Regions from separate parts of the Homo sapiens genome. Here all the other regions are linked to region 1. The links come from fine-mapping of genetic effects on gene expression. A gene starts in region 1. Each other region holds a variant in brackets. All regions are shown on one strand. Distances are between the middles of the regions.

The links.
Region 2: its variant is fine-mapped to the expression of HECW2 in whole blood (TOPMed, PIP above 0.99).
Region 3: its variant is fine-mapped to the expression of HECW2 in whole blood (TOPMed, PIP 0.98).
Region 4: its variant is fine-mapped to the expression of HECW2 in monocytes after LPS (Quach 2016, PIP 0.95). The same link has a PIP of 0.9 or more in monocytes after Pam3CSK4 and monocytes after R848.
Region 5: its variant is fine-mapped to the expression of HECW2 in coronary artery (GTEx, PIP 0.99).

What each region holds. Positions count from the first base shown.
Region 1 is chr2:196,591,601-196,596,707 of GRCh38, reverse strand. HECW2 (HECT, C2 and WW domain containing E3 ubiquitin protein ligase 2) reads left to right here and starts at 3,154. Exons shown (of 29, transcript NM_001348768.2): 1 at 3,154-3,200. RefSeq lists silencers at 3,196-3,465, 3,546-3,925.
Region 2 is chr2:196,244,713-196,249,819 of GRCh38, reverse strand. The region is part of intron 19 of HECW2 (HECT, C2 and WW domain containing E3 ubiquitin protein ligase 2); the gene reads left to right. Among named protein-coding and RNA genes, the nearest start is that of HECW2-AS1, 13 kb to the left of the region's middle. The variant G/T (reference allele first, on the strand shown) is at 2,728.
Region 3 is chr2:196,210,205-196,215,311 of GRCh38, reverse strand. All of the region lies in intron 28 of HECW2 (HECT, C2 and WW domain containing E3 ubiquitin protein ligase 2), which reads left to right. LOC124906154 (small nucleolar RNA U13) reads left to right here; the gene lies at 1-93. Among named protein-coding and RNA genes, the nearest start is that of STK17B, 41 kb to the right of the region's middle. RefSeq lists an enhancer at 3,537-3,586. The variant T/C (reference allele first, on the strand shown) is at 2,801.
Region 4 is chr2:196,276,376-196,281,482 of GRCh38, reverse strand. It overlaps HECW2 (HECT, C2 and WW domain containing E3 ubiquitin protein ligase 2), which reads left to right. Exons shown (of 29, transcript NM_001348768.2): 15 at 2,821-2,955. Among named protein-coding and RNA genes, the nearest start is that of HECW2-AS1, 19 kb to the right of the region's middle. The variant G/T (reference allele first, on the strand shown) is at 2,738.
Region 5 is chr2:196,557,882-196,562,988 of GRCh38, reverse strand. The region is part of intron 1 of HECW2 (HECT, C2 and WW domain containing E3 ubiquitin protein ligase 2); the gene reads left to right. Among named protein-coding and RNA genes, the nearest start is that of HECW2, 33 kb to the left of the region's middle. The variant C/T (reference allele first, on the strand shown) is at 2,238.

The sequences.
Region 1 (5,107 bases):
AATAACAAAGCATCCTAGACTGGGTGGCTTATGAACAACAGAAATTTATTTTTCACAGTTCTGGACGCCAGAAGAATGAGATCAGGGTGCCAGTGTGGTTGTGATGTGGGTGGGAAGGCCCTCTTCCAGTTGCAGACTGCCATCTTTTCTTTGTATCCTCAAGAGGCAGAAAGAGGGTGAGAGAGCTCTCTTGGGTTTCTTTTATAAGGGCATTTATTCCATCACCTCCCAAAGGCCCCACCTCCTAATACCATCACATTAGGGGTTAGGATTTCAACACATGAATTTGGGGGAGCACAAACATTCAGTCCACTGCAAATCGCTTGAGATTAAAATATCTTACTTTGGAAGCTTTTATAAAAATATAAGACCACATGAACATGTCTCTCAGGCTCCTTCTGTGTTGTTGGAAGAGGGCTGGAGTATAAGTTTCTTGGAATCTGCCTTTGGGTTTAGCTTTGGCCATATGCTTTAGAAGGAGCAGTCACAAACCTTGGCACATCTGTAGAAAGGAAGTAACCTAGGATGATGAAGGGTCAGGACACATTGCCATGTGTCCTGCATGACTTATGGGTCATGCAAAGATCTTGGAAAAGAGACAATTCAAGTGGTTCACAAGTTTGTCTTCAGTGCTTGGAGTACTCTCAGGTGGAAGAAATATTTCAACTCAATATAAGGGATCACTTCCTAATGTCAGGCCAGTTTCAATGCAGAATTGACCAGCTTGTAAAGTACTGAGTTCTCTTTAAGGGAATGGCTCCAGGAGAGGATAAGTGAGACCCGGTCAGAGATCTTGTGAAGGAGAGTGGTGGTGATGACGAACGGGGAGTGCAGTGTGAAAGAACCTACCTAATCTTTACACACCTTTGCAAGTTTGAGATTTTTAGGATGACTTTGCTATTAATGTTCTTTGATGCCTTAGTCTCGGTTTTAATGGTCGATATGTAGAAAGTTTTAAAGGTAGTAGGGGCTGCTTTTAAAGTGAGAGAAAAATGTTTTTTAAGACCTAGGGCAGCAATAGTGATTCACTTTGCCTCTATTCATTTTTAGGGTTCTTCTTTCTCCCTCCTTTCCTCCCTTCCTCCCTTCCTCCTCTTTTCTTTTCTTTCTTTTTCTGTTTTTCTTTTCTTTCTTTCTTTTTCCTCCTCCTCCTCCTTCTTCTTCCTCTTCCTCTTCTTTTTTGACAAGGTGACAGGGTCTTGCTCTGTCTTCAAGCTGGAGTGCAGTGGTGCAATCACAGCTCATTGCAGTCTTGAAATCCTGGGCTCAACTGATCTTCCTGCCTCAGCCTCCAGAGTAACTGCGATTACAGGTTCAGGCCACCATGCCTGGCTATTTTTATTTTTATTTCTTTCTTTATTTAATGTATTATACTTTAAGTTCTGGGATATATGTGCAGAACGTGGAGGTTTGTTACATAGGTATACACGTGCCATGGTGGTTTGCTGCACCCATCAACCCATCATCTACATTAGGTATTTCTCCTAATGAGATCCCTCCCCTAGCCCCACAACCCCCGATAGGCCCCTCCTCCCTGATGTGATGTTCTCCTCCCTGTGTTCATGTGTTCTCATTGTTCAGCTCCCACTTATGAGTGAGAAAACGCAGTGTTTGGTTTTCTGTTCCTGTGTTAGTGGGGTCTCACTATGTTGCCCAGATTGGTCTTAAACTCCTGGCTTCAAGAGATCCTCCTGCCTCAGGCATGATTACAGGTGTGAGCCACTGCACCTGGCCCATTTTGACTAGAATGTAACATAGTGGTTAATCAACACAAAGAAGCTAAGGATTGCAGGTGTGGGGTTGCTGGATTTGAGTAAGTTGTGAAGGAGAACATCATGTGGGAACAAACCTCTAGGATCCCTGTTCTTCCAGCAAGAACTGGAATTGGGCCTTTTGTGGGGTGGGGCTCTTTGATTCTGTGGAGGATCCTAACAGTGATGCCTGGGCTGATAGATCCAGGGGACTAAGAAGTCAGGGCTCCTCTGAGACATGTGACAAAACACAGCTGACACTGACTTGAAATAAAAGAGAGAGGATTTATTGGCTTCAAGGGTAGAGTTCACTGCAGACACATCTACCTCCTGAGGTTCCTGAGAGGGTGGGACATCACCCTCTCACCAGCAGCTTTTCTTCCCTCAAAGTTGGCTTCATTGGCATGCACTGTTGGTCCTTGTTACCGTAGGCTTATATCCTTCCAATTTAGTTATCCTAGTTTAAAGAGCTTATTTTTCTGCAGTAATACATCCAAAGCCCTAGGCCGAGTTCCTGGATCAACATGCCCAACCCAGAACCGATCACTGCGGTCCGGAAGATGACTGGCTAGTTCTGGGGGTTGAGGGTGGGAGGTGTCAGTACCCTGGAGCCACAAAGACTCATTGTGGGTGAGGGGGAAGGGCAGTTCCCATAGGAATAATGAACTGCTGTTACCAGAAAAGGCGGAGAAATGGATAATATTGAGCACACACTCAAAAGTCCCAAAGGAATGGCTATCCATTATTTGGGGACTTACTCCATATGGATATAGTTAAATTGTAAAATTGAATAAATCTTCCCTAAATCTGGACAGATGCAAGGGTGGGTGGGGAGGGACACAATATATTTACACTTTAGCATTTTTACTTTTTCTCCTACGTGGGACTGGTTGATGAAGATGCTATAGAAGTAAACAGAAAGCCGAAAGTATTAATACAGTAATTTTAAATTTTAGTGCCCTCTTTAGGCAAAGTATCTGGGAACGCTTTCAATAATCCATTTTTTCATCGTGACCACACCCTGTGTGTGCGACATGAGTATTACCGTCTTGCCCTTGCAGTTGGGGAAACCGAGGCATGACACTCCCCTATTCAGCTTTCTGGTGGGGTTGAGGAACAGTGTTGTCTGCACGACCTCAGAGGGTCTCCTCCACCCTCCGCGACACCTCTAGGAATCCTCCTGTCCTTCGACTTCGCAGAAGGAGAGCAACTCAGGCTCCGCCGCAGCCTCGGGACTCGTCCTCCGCCCAGCCGCACCCGCCCCGTTCTTCCGCACCTTCCTCAGGGAGGTCCCGCTGGCCAAGGTCTGGCTGTCCCTCCTGTCCTCTGCCCCCGCCTCCCTTCCACCGGTCCCCGACGTGCCGCCAGCTCCCAGCCCAGCGTCCCGCAGGGCGGTGCGGGCAGATGCCGCCGAAGCGTCTAGCGGGAAGGGCGCCGGCGCGGCTGGAGGTGAGGAGGCCGGACTCTTCGCTCTCCGCGGACCGGGGCACCGCGGCTGGAGCGGACGCCCGGCACCCGGGCGGGAGGAAGGTGGCGGCAGGGAGCGGCGAGAGGGTGGCGACGCAGGCGGGTCGGCGCCTGGAGAGCGAGCGGCGGGGAGCCGGGCGCTGCGGGGCCGCTCGGGGCCGCGCCGCGCTCGGCCACAAACCTCCCGGAGGCGCAGGACCCCCGGCGCCCTCCCGAGCGCGGGCGGGAGCCATGGCTTCGCGCGTCCCCGCTGCCGCTGCTGACTCGACACAATCGGCGGGTCGCGCGGGGGCCGTGGCGTAACCCGGGGGTGGGTGGCGGCGCGGAGCCGCCTCGAGAGCTCTGGGTGTCGCTGGGAGCTAGGAAGATGCCAGCACAAAGGCGAGCCGAGACCCAGCCCGCTGCGGAGGGCGGCGGGAAGAGCCGCTGAGGGGCGCGCCGAGCGCGCTCTGCCCCTGCGCCGCGTCTCTCCGGGCGCTTCTCGCGGTCTCGGGGTCGGGGACTGCAGCGCAGAGACTCTCGGCTCCGTGGCAGCGGCCGCAGCAGCCGTGAGCTGCATGCAACGCGCGGCGGCGCCCCCGGCCGCCTGCTTTCTCCTCGGCGCGCACGGACCGGCCGCAGGGCGCCGGGGCCGCGGGTCCGGGCGACTTTGGGGGCGCCCTCCCGCCCCGCGGCCGGGTCCCCACCCGCAGCTTGTGGCGACGGGCGCAAAGCCCAGGTGAGCGCGCGGCCCTCGCCGCAGGTAGCGGACGGCGGGAGGTGGCTTTGTTTTTCCTCCCTTGCGCCCCGGCGCGGTCATTCATTTGCCATTTCGGTTTCCGCTGCCCAGGATGTGTTGGATGGTTTGGTTCTCCAGGGAAACTGGGACTTTGGGGTCTATTTGAGCATCAGTTGAGGGAGAGGACGCTTCATTTCCTTTTTGGTTGGGAATGTGCCGTGAACATCCTCTGCTGGAGCTTGGGGCCTGGAGCAAACTGGGGCTGCAGATTTAGACGTAGACGTTTCCGAGGACGCGAGACTGCAGAGGTCTGACTCTCTCATGCCTTGTCTTCACTATTAGCAGCGCTCGGGTGCTTTTCGTCGTTTATTATTATTAATTTAGAGAACATCTTTACAGGCACATTTCTTTTAGAGTTAGAAGTCTTTGGAGTCAGTACAGAGAGCTCACAATTAGAGTTACAAGGGTTCAATCGATATTAAACTTCAGGAAGGAAAACATTTGTGATCATTACAGATAGAGGTGGACAGCATGCAAACTTCGGGGGCCTTTAGCTTTTGGGTTATGATTTCTGCTTTCACTGTCCTAGACTCACGCAAACTGTTTTCGTATATATATACCTTTGTGAAAGTGTGAAACTTGTCTTTTCTGGAGTAGTGTTCTATAGTTTGTCATTTAGAAGAAGAATATTTTAGTGTAATTAGTAGAGCTCTCCATGTGTTTGTCTTATAAATATGATTTTCTTTTTACTATTTCTCCTATTCCCTCGAGGGTTCATTTCTTCTGTTGCTTTGAGAGAGCTTTTTTTCTTTCTCTTCCCAACAGATGGCTGTATGTTCCAAGAGGTTATCTTTAAAATGACACACACATTATCTACAAAGAAAGAAAGATCAGTTATTGACTTTATCTTTGGAGTTATTAAAATAAAAGGCCTAATCTGGATGGGGATATTATTAATGGCGTGAAAATCTGGAGTTTGCTAATCTGTTTGGTCATCAGAAGATTCCTGCGGGGATTGTTTATATAGCGTGGGAGACAGATGGCATCCCTAGCAGACTAGAGAAGCCAGGCATAAAGGGTCATTGTATTCTTCAGAAATTATCCACTTCACTATTAGAGGTGGGGTAGGGTGGGGTGGAGGGTGGCAAAGACATTTTGATCTCTTAAAGGA
Region 2 (5,107 bases), 350 kb after region 1:
CTACTCTGTTTCAGTGGGCTTTGTTTGATCTTGAAACTGGGTTGTACAGCCTGATATCAATGGAAGTCACTATAACAAATTCCACATGATACCAGGGCAGGACTACCTAACCTCATTTCCCCTCTGGAGGAATCTTCTGTTCCTTTGAATAAAATAGCTTCTCCTTCTACCAGGATTCCTGAAGGTTTTGTGAAAGCAACATTTCAAACAGATTTTTTTAAGTGGTCTGATCCTCCTTGTGACTATAATTTCACCCCTTTTAGTGGTGTGAGAATAATATCTTGAAAATTATGACAGTAATAAATTTTAATGATCTTCATTGAGAATTCCTAGGAACCTGGTAAACTTTCCCCCTTTTCCTCATTCCAAGCACGTTGACATGTATTTTCAAGTGCAGAAGAGAGAGGGGCTTTGGAAACTTTGACTCACTGCTTTTTGCAGCTGTTAGAGTGCTCACCAAAATTTGTCAAAATTTTGGAATGTGAAGGTTTGTTTTTCTAGGACCATTATAATGCCAATCCCAACCTCAGTGATGCCAGAAGGAAAAGATCTTTCCAAACACCATGTGGCTTATTATGCCAAATATGGGACCCAGAAGTTTATTTAAGCTGCACATTTCTAGGAAATTAAATGCAATAACACCTAATTTATCTGATATTATTGGAGATGTGCTCTCTTATGTGGATTTTCCAGGTAACCAAAGCTATGATTTTAACTGTATGAGAATTTGTTTGACCCCCTATTTGCTGAAACTCTTTCATAAATATATTATATTTCTCTTTACTTTCCTATACACTGCACATTGAGGATATTTCATGGTTTGGGGGGATCATTGTGCCTATGAATCATGATGCAGAGCTCTTGTTACTTGACTAGAGCTGGACTCCCTGGAAACTAGCACCAGCAGAAAGTCACCTTCAACAGAAGTAAAACACTCAGAGAGCACAGAAGAGCCCTGTGGGTCTTTACTAAAGATTGTCTTGAGGGGATGGGTTGTGAGAGGGAATTATTTCTCCCACCACATTGTGTGCCCTTAATGATCTTCGTTTTCTTTCTCCCACCACAAAGTCTTAGCATTTTACCAGCTGTTTATGTCATCTTCTCTTTTCACAAACAGTTCCTCTTCTCTGCTCATTCTCTCTCTCCTTTTCTTCCTTCCTCCCTCTCTATTCCTCTCTGTCTCTCTCTGTGTGTGTGTGTGTGTGTGTGTGTGTGTGTGTGTCTGTCTGTCTCTCTCTCTCTCATCTGTCCCTCTCCCTTTCCCCACCTTTCCTACAGTCCCTGAAGTAGCTTTAGAGTTGTTTTTAGAAAAGGTGTTTGATCCCTTCCCTTGACTCAGCCCTACAAAGATGATCTAGGAACCAAATTGCACAAATGAAGGATGCTCCCTGGGTGGGTAGGGATGGGGAAGTTGTGATCCCAGAGACCAAAAGAAAGCCACAGACACTGTCTCTCTCATAGTATAGAGACTTAACTTTTTGTGTTGTTAGTCTCCCTTGTCCTCACCCATAGAGCTATCAGAGGGTGCCTGCTATTGGCAGACCCTTTACATTTCCCTTTAATAAATCACTTCCCTGCCAAGATCTCTGTCAAGGTTTGAGAAGTCAGAGCATTAAGTTATTTTCAATAAATGGTATGTACATGAACATCAGCAAGCTCCAAGAAATGACTCGAGGGCCTTTTACTACTCAGAGAATAAAGCAAAAATGCCAGGTTTTCAGTGCTTGTGCTTTGTGCCAGGGATTTGGACGTGTTTTTTGTTAAGTTCCAGCGTTGAGCTATGTTCCAGAAGATGGAGCCTTCCAGAAATTATTGTAGTGCTTGATGTTTTGTTTTCATTCACTCACAGGGCATTTGTTTTAAATGTCATAGGGATTTTTTGAAAGTGAACCAGGAAAGAGATGAGCGTCTGAGCTGTCCCAGGACAGAGGCATGGAGCCATGCTGGATCAGGCTAAGATCCAGCCCCTGTCCAATACGGAGAACCAGTGCTAGTCATCAGAACAGTCCAGGTTCTGGGTCACACACCCAGAATCAAAAAAGACTGAGACTGCCCGGGAGTTGGATGCCAAGCTATTTCTAGTGTCTTCTGAAATATTTTGTCAGATAGAATTCTTTAGTTTGTATATGATTATGCAATTTTGTAACAGTATATGAAAATAGGGTAACACAATATAGAAGTTCTTTAGACCTGCCTAGCAATGACAAAGCAAAAACTCCCTAGTGTCTGTTACTGAAATTTTTTCCTGCACAGTATTAGCAAAATGCTGACTATCCATGAAGTCAGCCCTTCATTTGATGTAACATTGATCTTTTGTACCTGATTTTCTTTAAGACTGTAAAGACCATAAAATTCCTCTGTCTACAAAGTATTATGACCTAGAACTTCACTTGTAGTTCTCACACAATTTTATTAGCGCAATCTTCCAAGAACATTTTGTATTTCCAAAGTGGAAGTAACATCATTCCTGCTCTGGAATTTCTTGGCAATTATACCTCACTTGTATTAAGAATTTGACAAAGGCCAACAGCATAATTTACTGTAATTTTATTTATTTATTTATTTATTTTGAGACAGAGCCTCACTCTGTTGCCAGGCTGGAGTGCAGTGGTGCGATGTCGGCTCGCTGCAACCTCCGCCTCCTGGGTTCAAGTGATTCTCCTGCCTCAGCCCCCCAAGTAGCTGGGACTACAAGCACACCCAGCTAATTTTTGTGTTTTTAGTAGA[G/T]ACGGGGTTTCACCATGTTGGCCAGGATGGTCTCGATCTCCTGACCTCATGATCCACCGACCTCAGCCTCCCAAAGTGATGGGATTACAGGCGTGAGCCACCGTACCCAGCCAATTTACTATAATTTTAAAATGAAATAATGTGTAAATGACTTCTTTCATGATGGAACTATGAGCAAAAGAATTTTTGCATTTAACAATTGCTGTCTCAGAGTTTTTATAATTAAATCCCTTTACCTAGAGTATAAACAGAATCAGAGCTAATTTTTATTGTGTCTGTATTGATATTGATGGAATGCATTATGGCATTTCCCACGTCCTTTTAAGCATCTCAAATTATATAGGAGTAGTTAGTGTCTGTGCTGTTTTTTAAAGTAATCAGCTCTTAAAAAAACATGTTTCTTGGCAGGGCACAGTGGCTCATGCCTGTAATCCCACCACTTTGGGAGGCTGAGGGGGGTGGATCACAAGGTCAGGAGATCGAGATCATCCTGGCTAACATGGTGAAACCCCGTCTCTACTAAAAAAATACAAAAAAATAATTAGCCGGGCGTGGTGGCAGACGCCTGTAGTCCAAGCTACTCAGGAGGCTGAGGCAGGAGAATGGCATGAACCCGGGAGGTGGAGCTTGCAGTGCCCGAGATCGTGCCACTGCACTCCAGCCTGGGCGACAGAGTGAGACTCCGTCTAAAGAAAAAAAAAAAGTTTCTTTTGTGTCTTAAAAGATTTTCGTTCAGTTCCTTGTTCTTCATTTTTCTCTCTCTTATCAATGATTTTGCTCTTGAAAGTTGATTCATTACAGCTGCGTTCTGCCCTGTCTGGGTTTTCTAGTCTGCAGTTTCTCAGACTGGAGCACTGACACTGATTGTGCCACCCTTGAGTGGACTTGAACTGCACGGTCCTATCCCTCATTCATCTAGGAGAGCAGCCTTGTGTTCATGGAGATAATGTTCCTTCGTGTTGCAAATTATGCCTTTCGGTACACAGGAAACATTTGCCCTGTGTTAGTCCCTGGATGCTGCCCATGTGTTTCACTGGTGATGTTTGACCTTCTTATAAGGGAATAGTGGTTCTCAGCCATAGCTACACATTACACATTGGAATCATCTGGACAGTTGTATTTAACACTCATGCCTGGGTCCCACCCCACATTCTGGGTCTTTACACATTTTGTTGTAATGCATCTTGGGTGTGGCCTGAACATTGGAATTTTTAAAAGCTTCCTAAGTGATTCTAATGTGCAGTCAAGATTGAGAACCCCTGCCTAGGAGTCTCTTCTGCTTCCCAGATCTTTAAAGTCAAGTTTATTCACTTGCTTTATGACATAACTCAGCTCTTTGCCCAGCTATACAAACAGATCTCCAGACAGATTATTGGTCAATAGCCAGTTTTGTACAAATTCATTAGTAAAATCTCAATTCATTTCCCTGTCTTTAGTATTCACCTCTATGCAGATAACAACAGCTAACACTTACGTGGGATCTCTTATGCAACAGTCACTGCATAAAGTGCCATAAACACACTAACTCAGCTCATCCACACGTGTGGCCCTGAGCTCTCACCCCAATTCCAGCCCTGTATTTTTCAGTCTCTAGGGCATTTTGTTAGCTGTCATATCCAAGTCAATATGTATAAAGTTTCACATGCCCTTGTCCACCTGCATCACTTCCCACACTCTTCATAGCATCAGGTAGATAGACTTGGCTCAAATCCCAAATCTACTGTCACTGGAATATGACTTGGACAGGAAACTGCACCTTCATTTTCTTTAGTTGCAAAGTGGTGTGTGATGGTCCTAGTAATACCCGCTTCGTAGACTTGTGAGGATTTCTCAAGATCCCCTGTGTAACGTGCATCATCTGTAATGTACAGCAGGCGCTTAACAAGTAAGACCTGTTGTTATTGTTTAAATACACTTTATATTATCATCATGCTTCCCATTCTTCTTTCTTGCTTATCTATTCTTTTCCCAGTGCATATTTCACATTGTAGATGTTTCTCTGAGTCACTCACTCCAGTCTAGTCCTTATCCCCTCAGGCTTCAATTACTGCAACAACTCCTAACTGGGGCTCTTTCCTCTTGCCCACCCTTAATTTACTCAACACACTCTGAAAATAATTTCTTAAATAAAACACCATTTGTATGTTATTCTTCTGCTCAAGAACCTATAAAGGCACTGTTCACTGCATCATGCCCAAACTCCTCTGCTAGGTTTTAAAAATTCTTGTCATAATTTGGCTCCAACCCTTCTGATCAATTTCATTTCCCATTTACTCCCAGCACTCCTCCTCCACTCTAGGCTAGCTTGGTTCTCTTGGTGTCTTCTGAACACACATGCAGTGCTCATGCCAGCTGTTGCTGCTGTGTTCCACTTTAGGAT
Region 3 (5,107 bases), 380 kb after region 1:
ATTTGTCAGTGTGATAATTGGGTGTTCATGCACATATGTGAGATGTGCCACCCTCAAGCCTTATTACAACGTCCACACATTACCCATCTGATATGGAAAATAGAAGCAAGGACTAGTACAAAAAGTGTTTGAGATTGAGTGGAGATAACTGGAGCTGGAGCAACAGAAAAGGAGCATATGAACAAAAGAGGAATGGAAGAAAATTTGTTTTAGAATTCCTTTATCCAATTAGTAGTAATACTGTAGCATTTTTGAGGTAAAAAGGAGCTGAAATTGCCTCTAACTTTACTAATAATACAACTATACTCTAGAGAGATTAAATGATATTAGGTACCCCAAGATGTTATCCTAAATTGAAGTATAGATGACTTTGAGAAACCTATTTTATTAGTGATATTAGGTGATATTATTGTTACTATATAAGGTGACATTAGGTACCCCAAGATGTCATCTGTTTCTTTAAGTACAAGCAACTGAGCAATCTGTTATCAAAGCTTTCTTCTTAGCAATTGAAAGATGCCAGTTCTTAAGAACTGTATTGTCAGCATCAACAGATGAGAAAAAGGGTGCTGAAAATACAAATGGAGAGAGCGATAAAGAATGACTGCTCAAGGGTTTGCCTGAGCCTCCTTGGCCACCCCACACGCATCACAGTCTGAACAGGCTGTGCATCCAGACACCTAAGTATTACCTGGCATATTTGATTTCCAAATCTGGGAATTCATTATTTGATTTCATTATTTAAAGAACTAGCTCATTTTATTTATGCTTGGATAATGAGTTTTCTCCCCTTCAACACATAAATCAACAGATTTAGCCTATCTGAATAAGGCTTTTTACTCTTCTGAGAAACTCTTTAAGAATTTGCATTGAAGAAGGAAAGGGTAGATTAATGGTCAGCTTTTTGTTGAAATCTATTTCTGTAAAGCCACTAAAGTATATGGAATAAAGTGCAACAGTAAGCAGATATGTCCACTGTTCATATTTAATCACTGTAATTTTCACCAAACCTGATGGGTAGAGACAAGTAATTTGATATAGACCTGGAGCTTTAGCTTCAGAGAGACCTAGGCTGAGTCCCACCTCTGTTACTTACCTGCAGCAGGGTCTTGGTGAAGTTGCATGATCCTTCTGAGCCTCTGTTTCCTCATCTATCTGGTGGATTTGAAATTCTGAGGATGATGTGAAATCATTCATGAAAAATACTTAATACTGTCTCTGGCCATGAGTAAGCATCCAGTCAGTGATCGCTGCCATTGTGATTTCTGTCACCATCATCTGTAATACATATCAGGCAGGATATTTGCATATTGGAAAGAGGGCAGGGGTAGGAGTTAAAAGACCTAGCTTCTAGTCCCACCTCTGCCACCAGCTAACTCTGGGACCTTAGAGAACACTTCATCTTTGAGCCTTGATTTTCTCATTTGTAACAGGCCTGGAGGAGGTGGTATATTAGGTTGGGTTGAGCAAGAAGTAACACCGAAGGGTTGCTGAAGAATCTTGAGGGTCAGGCTGGATTTGCATTTCTGCTTCCCCCTGGAGCTCCAGGAAGTTCATGTGCTAACTCATTGTAAATGGTGGTATTCTTCATTATTGTAGCATACACACAGTTGGGTAACAGGCACTGTCCTTTCTCCCTGTCTTCACTATGACCTAAGTTTGCTTCTACATTCCTAGTTTTACCCAGATTATAAAACAGCACAAATAAAGATGGTCTTAGGCACATTGAGCAAGCAGCCTCTTTTCATACCCTCTCCGTAACAAGCCCCATCTTTTGGGGTCTGATGAGAAGAAAGAGTTACTTGGCTTTTCTGCTTCAGAGTTGCAGTCACCTTATGTAACCCAGGTAACACGCAGGAGCACAGATCTAAGCCCTATGACACACTAGTTACATCATCCTAAGCAAAACCCTAGATCCATCCCTCTAAGGTAGGAGTAACAATGTTCAGAGTATTTTTGACAATTGTAAGATAATGTATATGAAAGGCTTAGGAACACTGTGTTTACTTTGTTCTTTTTTAACTTTTTATCCTGACTTTTGTAAGCCACTGTACTACTTTAACTATTAACATTGGCTCCACAAAGAATAAAAGTACATTCGGAGGGAAAAAATTAAAAGAACTTAATTGCATGACAGTATAGTTATATGAGAAGCAACTTCTTCATTGACAACATTGTCATCACCCTTAATGAAATGTGGGGCATTACTTAGGTGTAAAAAAAGATCTGTAAAATTGGTTCTGGCCTAAAGAGATTCTTTTATATTATCAAGTCCATTTCTCCTACCATCAGAACAGATACACTGAAGCCATTTTTCTGCTATTTTTTGATAGGCGTTAAGTTGCACAATGGAAGAGCTGGTCTGTCTCAAGCTAGTTGGCCCCAGTGTATTTCTTTTTCCTATGAGTGAAATGATGTTTAACATTTAAAATGTGACATGGTACAAAAAAATAACAGATGCTGGTAAGGTTGCAGAGAAAAGGGAATGCTTATACACTATTGGTGGGAGTATAAATTAGTTCAACCATTGTGGAAGACAGTGTGGCAACTCCTCAAAGATCTAAAAACAGAAATACCATTCAACCCAGCAATCTCACTACTGGGTATATACCCAAGAGAATATAAATCATTCAGTTATAAGACACATGCATGTGTATCTTCATTGCAGCTCTGTTCACAATAGCAAAGACACAGAATCAACCTAAATGCCCATCAATGGTAGACTGGATAAAGAAAATATGGTACATATATACCATGGAATACTATGCAGCCATAAAAAAGAATGAGATCATGTTCTTTG[T/C]AGGAACCTGGATGGAGCTGGAGGCCATTATCCTTAGCAAACTAACACAGGAACAGAAAACCAAATACTACATCTTCTCACAAGCGGGAGCTAAATGATGAGAACACAAGGACACATAGAGGGGAATAACACTCACTGGGGCCTAATGGAGGGTGGAGGGTCAGAGGAGGGAAAGGATCAGGAAAAATAACTAATGGGTACTAGGCTTAATACCTGAGTGACAAAATAATCTGTAAAACAAACCCCCAGTGACACAGGTTTACCTCTATAACAAACTTGCACAAGTACCCCTGAACTTAAAATTAAAAAAAAAATTACATTGCACACATGGGAGAAAAATGGATAGATGTCCTTCTTACTTAAAAAATGAATCCTGGCTGGGCATGGTGGCTCACACCTGTAATCCCAGCACTTTGGGAGGCCAAGGCGGACGGATTGCCTGAGGTCAGGAGTTTGAGACCAGCCTGGCTAACATGGTGAAACCCTGTCTCTACTAAAAATACAAAAATTACCTGGGCGTGGTGGCATACGCCTATAGTCCCAGCTACTCGGGAGGCAGGAGAATCGCTTGAACCCAGGAGGCAGAGGTTGCAGTGAGCCGAGATGGCAATGCTGCACTCCAGCCTGGGCGACAGAGCAAGACTCTGTCTCAAAAAGAAAAAAAAAGAATCCTCTAAGAAGTCTGGCATGGTCTTGTGTCGGGCATGGGAGTTTCTGCCCTGGAGGGTTGGAGGGGCTGTAAAGGATGAGGGCAGTCCTGGCAACCGGAGCAATGAGGGAGAGAATCTTAGTCTTTCTAGACAAGGATGATGGAGGGCCTTTCAATTTTCAAGCAGGCAAATGTGAGTCTCATTCTTTTCTCAGATTTCCTAGTCTCACTTTGCGGTAGCAGTGGATAGCGCTGCTCACAGTATGAGTCAAGGAGTATATAAAAGTATATATGGTTGTCTCTGCAGCCAGTGCAAGTTGAATCCATGGCTCTTTTTTCCTCTTGTGGTTATGAAGTGACTAGAGACCCAGATGATAAATAAGGATGTAGACAGAAGGGTGTCTCCATGGAGACCTACAGCCTGAGCACATGACTGCACTTCCTCTGCTTCGCGGTCGGTGGTTAGCTCTGTATTTTGCATTTCTGTGGAAGACTTCATACCCCTGGTGCTCTGATGGACTTTATGAAAAGAGAGTACATTCACTTTGTGGCAATTGCTCTCAAACAGTCCAAAAAATGCGCTGCTAAGATGCCAGCCTGAAAACTGCAGAGCAGTCCTGTCTCCCACCATGGTGTGAGTTTCTGTGTTCATCCCCCAGGTTCTTGCCAAGTTGGGTGATGGGACGGAGGACCTGAGAGCTGCAATCGTCATGGGGGTGTGTTGGTTATTGCCAAAGGGAAAAGCGTTAATTTTTGAAAATGGCTGTGTCTGGAGATTATTATGAATGAAATGCTAACTGAAATTAAGAAATAAATTGTAAGAGTTAATTATGAAATAGATGTCTTATGGAGACAGTTAATCTAATGGAATAGAACTTTAAAAGATAAAATTATTTTTTAAAAACATAACAACTTTTTGTTTTTAAAATTCTGCTTTTTGGCAGAGTGCAGTGGCTCACACCTGAAATCCCAGCACTTTGGGAGTCCAAGGCAGGCAGATCACTTGAGGTCAGGAGTTTGAGACCACCCTGGCCAATATGGTGAAACCCCCATCTCTACTTAAAAAAAAAAAAATACAAAAATTAGCCAGGCATGGTGGTGTGCACCTGTAATCCCAGCTACTCGGGAGGCTGAGGCAGAAGAATCACTTGAACCCAGGAGGTGGAGGTTGCAGTGAGCCAAGATCATGCCACTGCACTCCAGCCTGGGTGACAGAGTGAGACTCCATCTCAAAAGAAAAAAAAATCTGCTTTTTATTCTAATTTATAAAAAGAAAATTTTACAAAAAATTGCTAAGAAATATATGTATATATTAAATATATATTAAAATACCTACATATGTATCAATCCAATGTCCACCCAATGTCCACTACTAGCTGGTCATGGTGGTGCATGCTTGGAGTCCCAGGTACTTGGGAGGCTAAGGCTTGAGCATGGGAGTTTGAGTCAAACCTGAGCAACATAGAGAGATACCATTTCTGAAGGAAAAAAAAGTCAATTACTAAGATAAGCTCTGTTAACATGTTAGAGTATGTGATTTCACTCATTTCTTCAGGTACACACAGGCACACAGACACACACATACACACACACACACATTTTAAAACAACATTCCGTTTATCACATGGAACATCTTTCCATGTCATTAAATATTGCTC
Region 4 (5,107 bases), 320 kb after region 1:
AATATTTTGTAGAGACAGGGTTTTGCCATGTTGCCCAGGCTGGCCTTGAACTTCTGAGCTCAAGCGATCCACCTACCTCAGCCTTCCAAAGTGCTGGGATTACAGGTGTGAGCCATCGCGCCTGGCCCAAGAACATGCTTTTTAGCACTTGGTTAGTTAATTGTTAGTTGTCTCCTTGTATTTTGGTTGGAAATTCAAGTTTTTGCCAATTTGTTTTTATCTGAGCACCCTTTCTCCCAGGCACAGCCCTAAAAGCTATTGGGGATAACAGAGTGACTAAGATACAGTCACTACTGCAAGGCTTTTGCAGTATAGTTCTTTTGAGAATGGATTTTAGACAAGCCTCTTAACATCACATTAGGCTATGACACTACATACAAATCATAGTTGACCTACATGTAGACACCCATTTGTCTTTATAATTACAAGTGCATCATTGTACCGTTAATGACCACCCATCCCTTCAAAACATTCCTAAGAAATTAGGTAAATAGGCCATTCTAATTTATGCTCTTTGTATTTTTCCCTTAAACAAGATGGTTAATAGGATTGTGTTAGTAATAAAAGCTTGTTACTCTCCATTTACATACAGAGGATATGGGTTTGGTTCTAATATGTATTATTTAAAAATAGGTATTAGCCACATCCATTGGTGCAAAATAGTTTAATTGCTATTTTATGACATTTTGAGTAGTGGCAGAAATAGTGGACAATTGTATTAGAAGCACAAACCAAATGGGACCAATGTGACATTTGGGGTCAGAACCTGTCAATGCAAGTCCACACAGGTTTTATCACTGGAGTACTTTTTACAAGACCTGAGAAGAAGGATGTTTCACTCAAGGTTAGTGAAGAGGAAACATTACCCAGGATGTGAGGCTGATGACAAAATCTCACACAAAACCTTTATTTTTTTGTACCCAGAATTGGATAGTAAGAGAAAGGACTGGGAAAGATTCCTGTTCTGTCCATTTTTCTGCTTTGTTTTCTGGTACATCCATTGCTTAAAGTTATTTCTTTATAAAGATGTAAAAATGTTTTCTATATGGGACCTGCCCCATTTCTTGATGATGTACATAGAGTTCCATATGAAACATTCTGTTCCATAATGGGAAAATAGGTTTCTAAATAGGCATAAATATACTATCTGCCTCTGGCATTTGCCTAGATACCTTCATCTCTAGGTGTTAAGGTACTTTGTTAACTGAGCTCCATTGGTTTGAAAGGTCAGTTCTTTTTTGCCTGTTATTTGGCATACATCATGTGCCTTGATACTTGGTTTATAGGTACTGAGTCTCCTGGCTCTCCTAATAGCCTCTTTCATCTTTGATGACCTAATTAACTATCTGATCATGGAAAACTTACAATTTCTAATTGTACTTAAGATAATGGGTTTCATTATTACCTTGAGTCAATTTTACTTTGAAAACTTACAACATTGGGCCCCTAAGGATAATGATAGATAGCACTTGTATAGTTTTAGAATTAAACAAACAGACCAAAAAATGCTTTGCTACATTGTAGTCCATCTTACTGCAATGCTGAGGTAAATGGTTTATGCTCATTCATGATTTCATGTTATCAGAGATTCTGCAGTGATCATGACAGACATGGCTTCCATTCTTCTAACACATTATGGGGGAGAAATGTCAGGAATGAAGGAGACATGTTTTTGTAAGAAACATATAGCTCAGAGAACTTAAGTGACTTACCCAAAGTTCTAGACGGTATGTGATGAGTTTGTATGGGTGTGTAATGGGCGACTAAACTGGAAAGGCATGTAGGCAGACTGTTAAAGAGTAATGAAAAACTGACCAAAGAGTGGGAATGTCTTTTCTGTGGACAATGGATAGCCATGAGAAGCTTTGTATTGGGGTGGTGATGTAATTGAAGTGTTTAGAAAGAATATTCTTATAGTAACGGGCCAGTTAAATGACTATGGTGATAGAGATGTGGAGCAGCTGAGAAGCCACCAGCACTTACACACATAAAATAAAGTCCCAAAATAATGGGGTGGTGTTCAGGCTGGGAGGGGACAAATAGAGGACACTACAGTGAGAAAATGAGAAGGATTTTGTGGCTTACTGTATAGGAGAAGGAAGAAAGAAGAGAAGTCAATGATGTTTAAAAGTTTCGGCCAGGCGCGGTGGCTCACGCCTGTAATCCCAGCACTTTGGGAGGCCAAGGCAGGCAGATCACGAGGTCAGGAGATTGAGACTATCCTGGCTAACACAGTGAAACCCCGTCTCTACTAAATACACAAAAAATTAGCCGGGCGTGGTGGTGGGCGCCTGTAGTCCCAGCTACTCGGGAGGCTGAGGCAGGAGAATGGCATGAACCTGGGAGGTGGAGCTTGCAGTGAGCTGAGATCGCGCCACTGCACTCCAGCCTGGGTGACAGAGCGAGACTCCGTCTCAAAAAAAAAAATTTTTTTTTTTAAGTTTCAAGGTGGTAAGAACTTTATAATAACCACATATGACAGTAAGAGCTCAAAGACCATCAGTTAAGAGAAGCCTAAATGTCCATTCTTCTGGCTTCCTTCTTGGATCATGTCTTTGGTGACTATCTCGTGGAGCATTTCCTAAAACCAGGCATAATGTTCCTTCCTGCTCTCTTCGTTCTGGATCTCATCTAAGCTTGGCTTTCTCTAATCTGATCTGTCCTGTGTGGGTAAGGAGAAATTTCCCCAAAGATTGAAAATTATGAGAAAATAGAGCTAAGATTGTGACTCAGAAGT[G/T]AGTCTTTTCCTGACCGTCTGATGTTATAAGTCAGCTAAGACATGTGAGCGGCATGTATTTGACTCAGTGTATTGTATCCTAGGCATTCTTTGTGGACCACAACTCCCGCACCACCACTTTCATTGATCCCCGGCTCCCACTTCAGAGCAGTAGACCCACAAGTGCGCTGGTTCATCGGCAACACCTGACAAGGCAACGCAGCCACAGTGCGGGTGAGGTGAGTCATGCGTTTTGGGGACTGACCTGTTGGTTGATAGAAGCTTCTAGTATGTGATGGTTTGAGGAATTTGACTGATTTTTTTAAAGCATTTTTTCTTTTTTTTTTTTTTGAGTTTGATTTAGAGGCTGAAAAGCTTTCGAATGTTGACAGGGCTTCTCTGGAAATACATACAGCCTAAATCACAAATTTAAAAAGGTAGGATATATGAGGCAAAACTGACGAAATTTAAGATTTTTTGACTCAGAGGAAGGTGAGAGGGTGTTGATAATGTACTAAAATGTTCGAGACAGGAAGATGATAAGCCCATTTGCACACCCATTTTCAGCCTCACAGGAAGAAATGAATATAACTTGGTTAAATGTGGAATTTCTTTATATATATATATATATATTTTTTAATTATACTTTAAGTTCTAGGGTACACGTGCACAATGTGCAGGTTTGTTACATTTGTATACATGTGCCATGTTGGTGTGCTGCACCCATTAACTCATCATTTACATTAGGTATATCTCCTAATGCTATCCCTCCCCCCTCCCCCCACCCCATAACAGGCCCCGGTGTGTGATGTTCCCCTTCCTGTGTCCAAGTGTTCTCACTGTTCAATTCCCACCTATGAGTGAGAATATGCGGTGTTTGGTTTTTTGTTCTTGTGATAGTTTGCTGAGAATGATGGTTTCCAGCTTCACCCATGTCCCTACAAAGGACATGAACTCATCATTTTTTATGGCTGCGTAGTATTCCATGGTGTATATATGTGCCACGTTTTCTTAATCCAGTCTATCATTGTTGGACATTTGGATTGGTTCCAAGTCTTTGCTATTGTGAGTAGTGCCACAGTAAACATACGTGTGCATGTGTCTTTATAGCAGCATGATTTATAGTCCTTTGGGTATATACCCAGTAATGGGATGGCTGGGTCAAATGGTATTTCTAGTTCTAGATCCCTGAGGAATCGCCACACTGTCTTCCACAATAGTTGAGCTAATTTACAGTCCCACCAACAGTGTAAAAGTGTTCCTATTTCTCCACATCCTCTCCAGCACCTATTGTCTCCTGACTTTTTAATGATTGCCATTCTAACTGGTATGAGATGATAGAATTTCTTAAGTGAAGTTTTCTATATTACATTAAAATATCCATCCAGGGATATGGGATTATGGAATCCTCACTAGTATTCTTTAAAATTAGGATATTTTTGAGAGAGTTGATTTATATACTTTATGTGCCTGGAGAAAAAGGGCTGAACTAAGAATTACTAAAAACTGCTCTACTTTACCGATTTGCAGGGACCAATGGTAACCACACGAGGGCCCTCTAATATCCTAACCAAAAAAAAGAACAAACCTTGTTTCAGTTCTTCCTTTTGCAGCTTCAATATATAAAAGAAATGTCTTAAGTCAAGTTTTCTTCTCCTTCATATGGGCTTATGATTTGATTATATACCATCACTTGATTTACATTGTTTCTGAAAATTCCCTTAGACAATAGAATTTGGATCCTTTACCCACCTTTACATGCCTTTTCTGTGTCTATGTGCATGTCATATTTTCAGTATTATATTGTACATCAAATATCTTTGTAGCCATATATTTTGTATAAGAAAAAATATGAATACAATAAATAACTGGATCTGATTCATCAAAATTCTACTCTTGGAATTTCCCCTCGTGATTTATATACTTGCTCCAATGCATCATGTGTTTGCTGGTTGTAAGTGCAGATATAGAAGGGTGCACATGAGAAGCTCATATAAAAATGATATACAAATATATTACAGGATGAGGTATGTGCAAAAATTTTTCTGTTTTATGAGTAGCTAATAAATCTTTACCTTGCTGTCATGTAACCCATTAGTGGTGAACTGAATGGCACTAACAACATTCATCTTAAAAGCAGAACAGACCTCTCACCTTTGGACCTTGTGTGCGATGTGTAGCACAATTAGGGCTCTGTCTGATATTTTATTGCATAGCCCGTGCCCTTTAACCACTCACCTTATCATGACTTCACAGTATGAAGCTGGCTGTTTGGTCTAGTTAGGACTATTTTTCTGGGAAAACATGCATGAGATTAATAGCTATACTTTCATTTTCTTTCAACCCCTCTACCTTAAAACATGAATATTTTCATGGTCTAGTAGTAGTAGC
Region 5 (5,107 bases), 34 kb after region 1:
TCACTGCAGCCTCAACCTCCCAGGCTCAAGCTATCCTTCCACCTTGGCCTCCAAGCAGCTGGGACTACAGGTGTGCCTCACCACACCTGGCTAATTTTTTAATTTTTTGTAGAGACAGGGTCTTGCTATATTGCTGAGGCTAGTCTTGAACTCCTGGGCTCAAGTGATCCTTCTGCCTCAGCCTACCAAAGTGCTGGGATTACAGATGTGAGCCACCAACCCTGGCCAAAGCTGGTACTTTTCTGATTTGTGATTCGAATAAAAAATTCTGAGTGCTGCCTCCTGGGAACCTCTGTGAATGGATGCCTAAGATGGAGAAATACTTTGGGACAGCCCGCCTTACATGTATTTCTGCTCTGTCCCTCCTGCTTCTTGTATATTTTGGAAATGCAGTGATAAGGCTGGGGTTTACTTGTGCTCATTTTCCATTATCTTTCCCACATTTTAATTGGACAATATCTAAATTGCTTCTCTGTATCCACTTTACCTGTCTTTTATATTTCCAAGCCCTCTTTCAGCTTTAGCTACTGAAAATGCCATTGAAAACAGTTTAAATAAATAACTCATACAGGGAGAATATCATTAAATTTTAAATATTGTCAAAAGAATGTGCTGTAAAGTATACTGAATTCCTCCTTTGTAAAATTCTGGTATAAGTGGTTTTACTTCTTTATACATTTAAAGTACATGTAAGAAATTTAGTATGTATCACTTGTGCTATTGTTTCTAACTTGGTTGGAGGGTGGGAGGGTTTAAAGCTGGGAAAGGGAAGGAACTATGAAGGAGTCTTTTACTAGACTGACATTTATTCCACCAATTCATTGTCTTTGGATATTCTGCTTAACCACCTGCAAATCTATTCAGCGTATCATTATTTAGGCTGCATGTCTCTATTCTTGGCTACAAGAGTGTTTTAAGAGACTTCATACCATGCCGACATCTAAATATGCTGTCTAAAGCGTTGTCATACCCACCATTCTCCTAACCATGTCAAAAGGAAATAACGTGTTTGGCATAACTTATTCTTAGTGAAACCCTGCTGTTTTCTACTGATTGCCTCTTTTCATTGCCTCTAAGTTCTCACAGACCACTTATTTGGTAAACTATTTTAGAGGTGTGCAGGGTAGGACATCAGGCTCTGTGAGTCTCAGAATCTACCTTTCCTCCTAATCTTTGCCCATCCCAAGACATCAGTTCTTTCCCTGTAGCTGGATGTTGCCTGTGCTGCTGGGTAAGGCAAATCTCTAACTAAGAAGTCATTGTATGTATTAGGGGAACCAGCCCCTGATATTTCAACATAGGTTCTTTTCTATTTTCCCTAAGTGCCGGCCGGTCTGAGAAATAAAGGGAAAGAGTACAAAAGAGAAAAATTTTAAAGCTAGGTGGCCGGGGGAGACATCACATGTCAGCAGGTTCCATGATGCCTCCTGAGCCGTAAAAAACAGCAAGTTTTTATTAGCAATTTTCAAAGAGGAGGGAGTGTACGAATAGGGTGTGGGTCACAAAGATCACATGCTTCAAGGGCAACAAAAGATCACAAGGCAGAAGGTCAGGGCGGGATCACAAGGTCAGGGCAAAACTAGAATTACTAATGAAGTTCCATGTCCCACTGTGCACGCATTGTCATTGATAAACATCTTAACAGGGTTCAAGAGCAGAGAGCACATCTGACTAGAATTTGCCAGGCTGGAATTTCCTAATCCTAGCAAGCCTGGCGGCACTGCAGGAGGCCAGGGCGTGTTTTATCCCTTATCTGCAGCTGCATAAGGCAGACACCCCCAGAGTGGCCATTTTAGAGGCCTCCTCTGGGAATGCATTCTTTTCCCAAGGCTGTTAATTATTAATATTCCTTACTGGGGAAAGAATTCAGCGATATTTCTCTTACCCGTTTTTGGTAATAAGAGAAATGTGGCTCTGTCCTGCCTGGCTCCCAGGCAGTCAGACCTAATGGTTATCTCCCTTGTTCCCTGAACATCGCTGTTATCCTATTCTTTTTTCAAGGTGCCCAGGTTTCATATTGTTCAAACACACATGCTTTACAAACAATTTGGGCAGTTAATGCAATCATCACAGGGTCCTGAGGCGACATACATCCTCAGCTTACGAAGATGACAGGATTAAGAGATTAAAGTAAAGACAAGCATAGGAAATTATAAGAGTATTGATTGGGGAAGTGATAAATGTCCATGAAATCTTCACAATTTATGTTCTTCTGTCACGGCTTCAGCAAGTCTCTC[C/T]GTTCGCGGTCCCTGACTTCCCGCAACAGTATGGACTTTTTTGTGGGAAAATTATTTGTGTGGATCTACCAAGGAAATGTCTGCAGAGTCCACTTTGAGAAAAGCTGACTTGAGAAACTGATTTTCTGGACACATTGTATCAATTATTTCTGTAAATGAGAAGTCACTGAACTGGTAAAATATATATCTTTTAGATTATCCAAAAAAATGAACATGCAATTAAGATTTTTTTTAAAGCTCAGTTCCCTGGGACAGGGACAGGGAGTGCGGGCATATGAAGATCTCAGATAAGAAACAGTGGTTAAGGCTGGGCACAGTGGCTCAGGCCCGTAATCCCAGCACTTTGGGAGGCCCGAGGTGGGCAGATCACCTGAGGTCAGGAGTTTGAGACCAGCCTGGCTAACATGGTGAAACCCCGTCTCTACTAAAAATACAAAAATTAGCTGGGCATGGTGATGGGTACCTGTAATCCCAGCTACTTGGGAGGCTGAGGCAGGAGAATCACTTGAACCTGGGAGGTGGAGGTTGCAGTGAGCCGAGATCGCGCCATTGCACTCCAACCTGGGCAACAAGAGTGAGACCTTTGCTGTTAAAGGGTGGTCCCTGCAGCAGCAACATCATCAGGGTGCTTCATAGAAATACAGACTCTCAGGCCCTAATCCAGCCCTGTTGAATCAAAATCTGCATTTTGACACCATCTCCAGGTGATTCATATACAAATTAGGTTTGAGAAGCTCTGGAAATCATTTTCATGGGACCGTCCCTCTCTGCAAGTGAACTGGTAGAGAGATAAAGACTCATCTTGTGAAGTACCTGCAGATACTAAATAGCATAATTAGGAAAATCCTTTTAGAGTGAAAGGAATTCAGATATTTATTGTACATTGTTGGCTCAATACAATTGTTTAATATTGACCTTCCCACACTGTACCTTGTGAGATTTAAGATGTATGCAAATACAATGACTATTATTTTCAAAAAATGATTTTTGTAGTCATTTTACTAGCCATAAGCCAGAGTGCTCAAAACCTTTCCCCCTTTTTCTGCTTTCTGTATTCTTTCTAAAGGTGGCTAAATTGTCGAAGTTATAATTCAGCATGAAGAGAAAACTCCAAGAAAAAAGGCTTTAGCTGGGGCCATGCCTCTGTTGTTTGCATCCTAACTTTGTTAGAGCTCCTTAAGCACAGTAGAGCCTCGTCTGTTCCATGACACTGCAGGCTTGTCGCATAACCCTATGAGCAGTAATCAACTGGACTCCAGATGTTGCTGTCTCACATTAGCCCAACGTTAGCTTCAATAATGTTGATGGCAGCTTGATATATATCAGGGTTTCCTAGCTTTCTTAGATGTCTTACTTATATTGGGGGTGATGAAGGAATTGAACCTCCTCCCTTTAGCTGAGACATCCCCACGTGTTTCTGAAGGGTGGACATGTCAGGTAGGACTCTGATGGGCTGGTGTATGTGCTGTTGAAGAAAATACTTTAAGCCAATGTCAGATTGCAGGTGCATCTTACTGGCTCACTCAGGTGGGAGGGTCTAATGGGAACTGTGGGTGTTGTGAGCTGGCAGAGGGCATCAGTATGGTGTAGTGAAAAGAACATTGTGTTTCTAATTAGGTAGATGTGGTTTGAATCCCAGCTCTCCTGCTTATTAGTTCTGCAACCTAGTAGCAGTTATTTAGTCTCTGATTTTTGAGTTCCATAATTGTAAAAATAGGGTTAATTTCTATCTCCCTGGGTTGTTGTGAGACTCTAATGAGATGATGTATTAAGAGCCTAATATAGTGCCTGGCATAGAGTAGGTGCCCATTGAATGGTAAGTTCACATTACTAATCCATTTGGTATATTAAACAATTCCATACAGGTTTTTTTAAATGCCTGCCCCAGCTAAACTAAGTAAGGATTTAAGTAGCTTCTGATAGTTTTGCCCATCAAATGTATTTTCAAGTGATTCTTTGCCAGGTAAGCATCATCTTCTGTTATTGCTGCTGTGGCAGACACAGGCCTTCAAAGGCACAATGCTGTCAACCTGGCAGATTCATCAGCTGGATCAGAGCCAGCAGGGATTACATGTCCAGAAAGCTGAGAATATTCCATTTTACACAAGGGATACGCCAACATGTCAGCTAGAATCAAGGAAAAGGGACTACGTGCTTAAAACAATAGCAAGTGGTAAAAAGAGCTTTGGTGAATTAATCACGTTCAAATGGTTGCAGTACCTGGTGTTGTTTTCTATGAAGAAGGCTATGAAATGCAACATTTTGTTTCAAAAAGTATGCTCATGCTCATATAGTATCCTGGAAAGGACATTTTTCTTTATAATTATAAAGGGTGTAGAGTTTGATGTAAAGCTCTCCAAATTCACAACTCTGCTTATATCAGGAAACCAGGAGGTGTGGCACAAAATCCTAACTTATTAGTGTTCTACCTGTGAATATTTGACTGTAGACTTCTTCCATTACTTTTCTCTCTCTATCTCTGAATCTGAACCCATAGCCCATCTGAGTTTGAAAGCTCTGATTTTAGGTATTGAAGTAGTGCCTTGGTTATTTTTTAACTTTTAAGTGGTTGCTGTTTAGAAAATGTTAGAAAAATAACTTTAATCAGATTTAAGAAAACTACTGGATGAAGAATATTTTTTGTTTTGACTAAATTACATTGATTCATCTTTTAAATGGGGATTATAATGGTACCTATTCCATAGGATTAGTATCTACCTTACAGAATAAATAAAGTATTAATAATATATGTGAAGTGTTTAGTATATGGTGCTTGGCATGCCATAAACATATTTTATAATCGTGTTAAGTATTATTAATTTTTTGCTATTGGTTTCTCTCTGCTTACAAAACAGAAATTTTCATTGTAG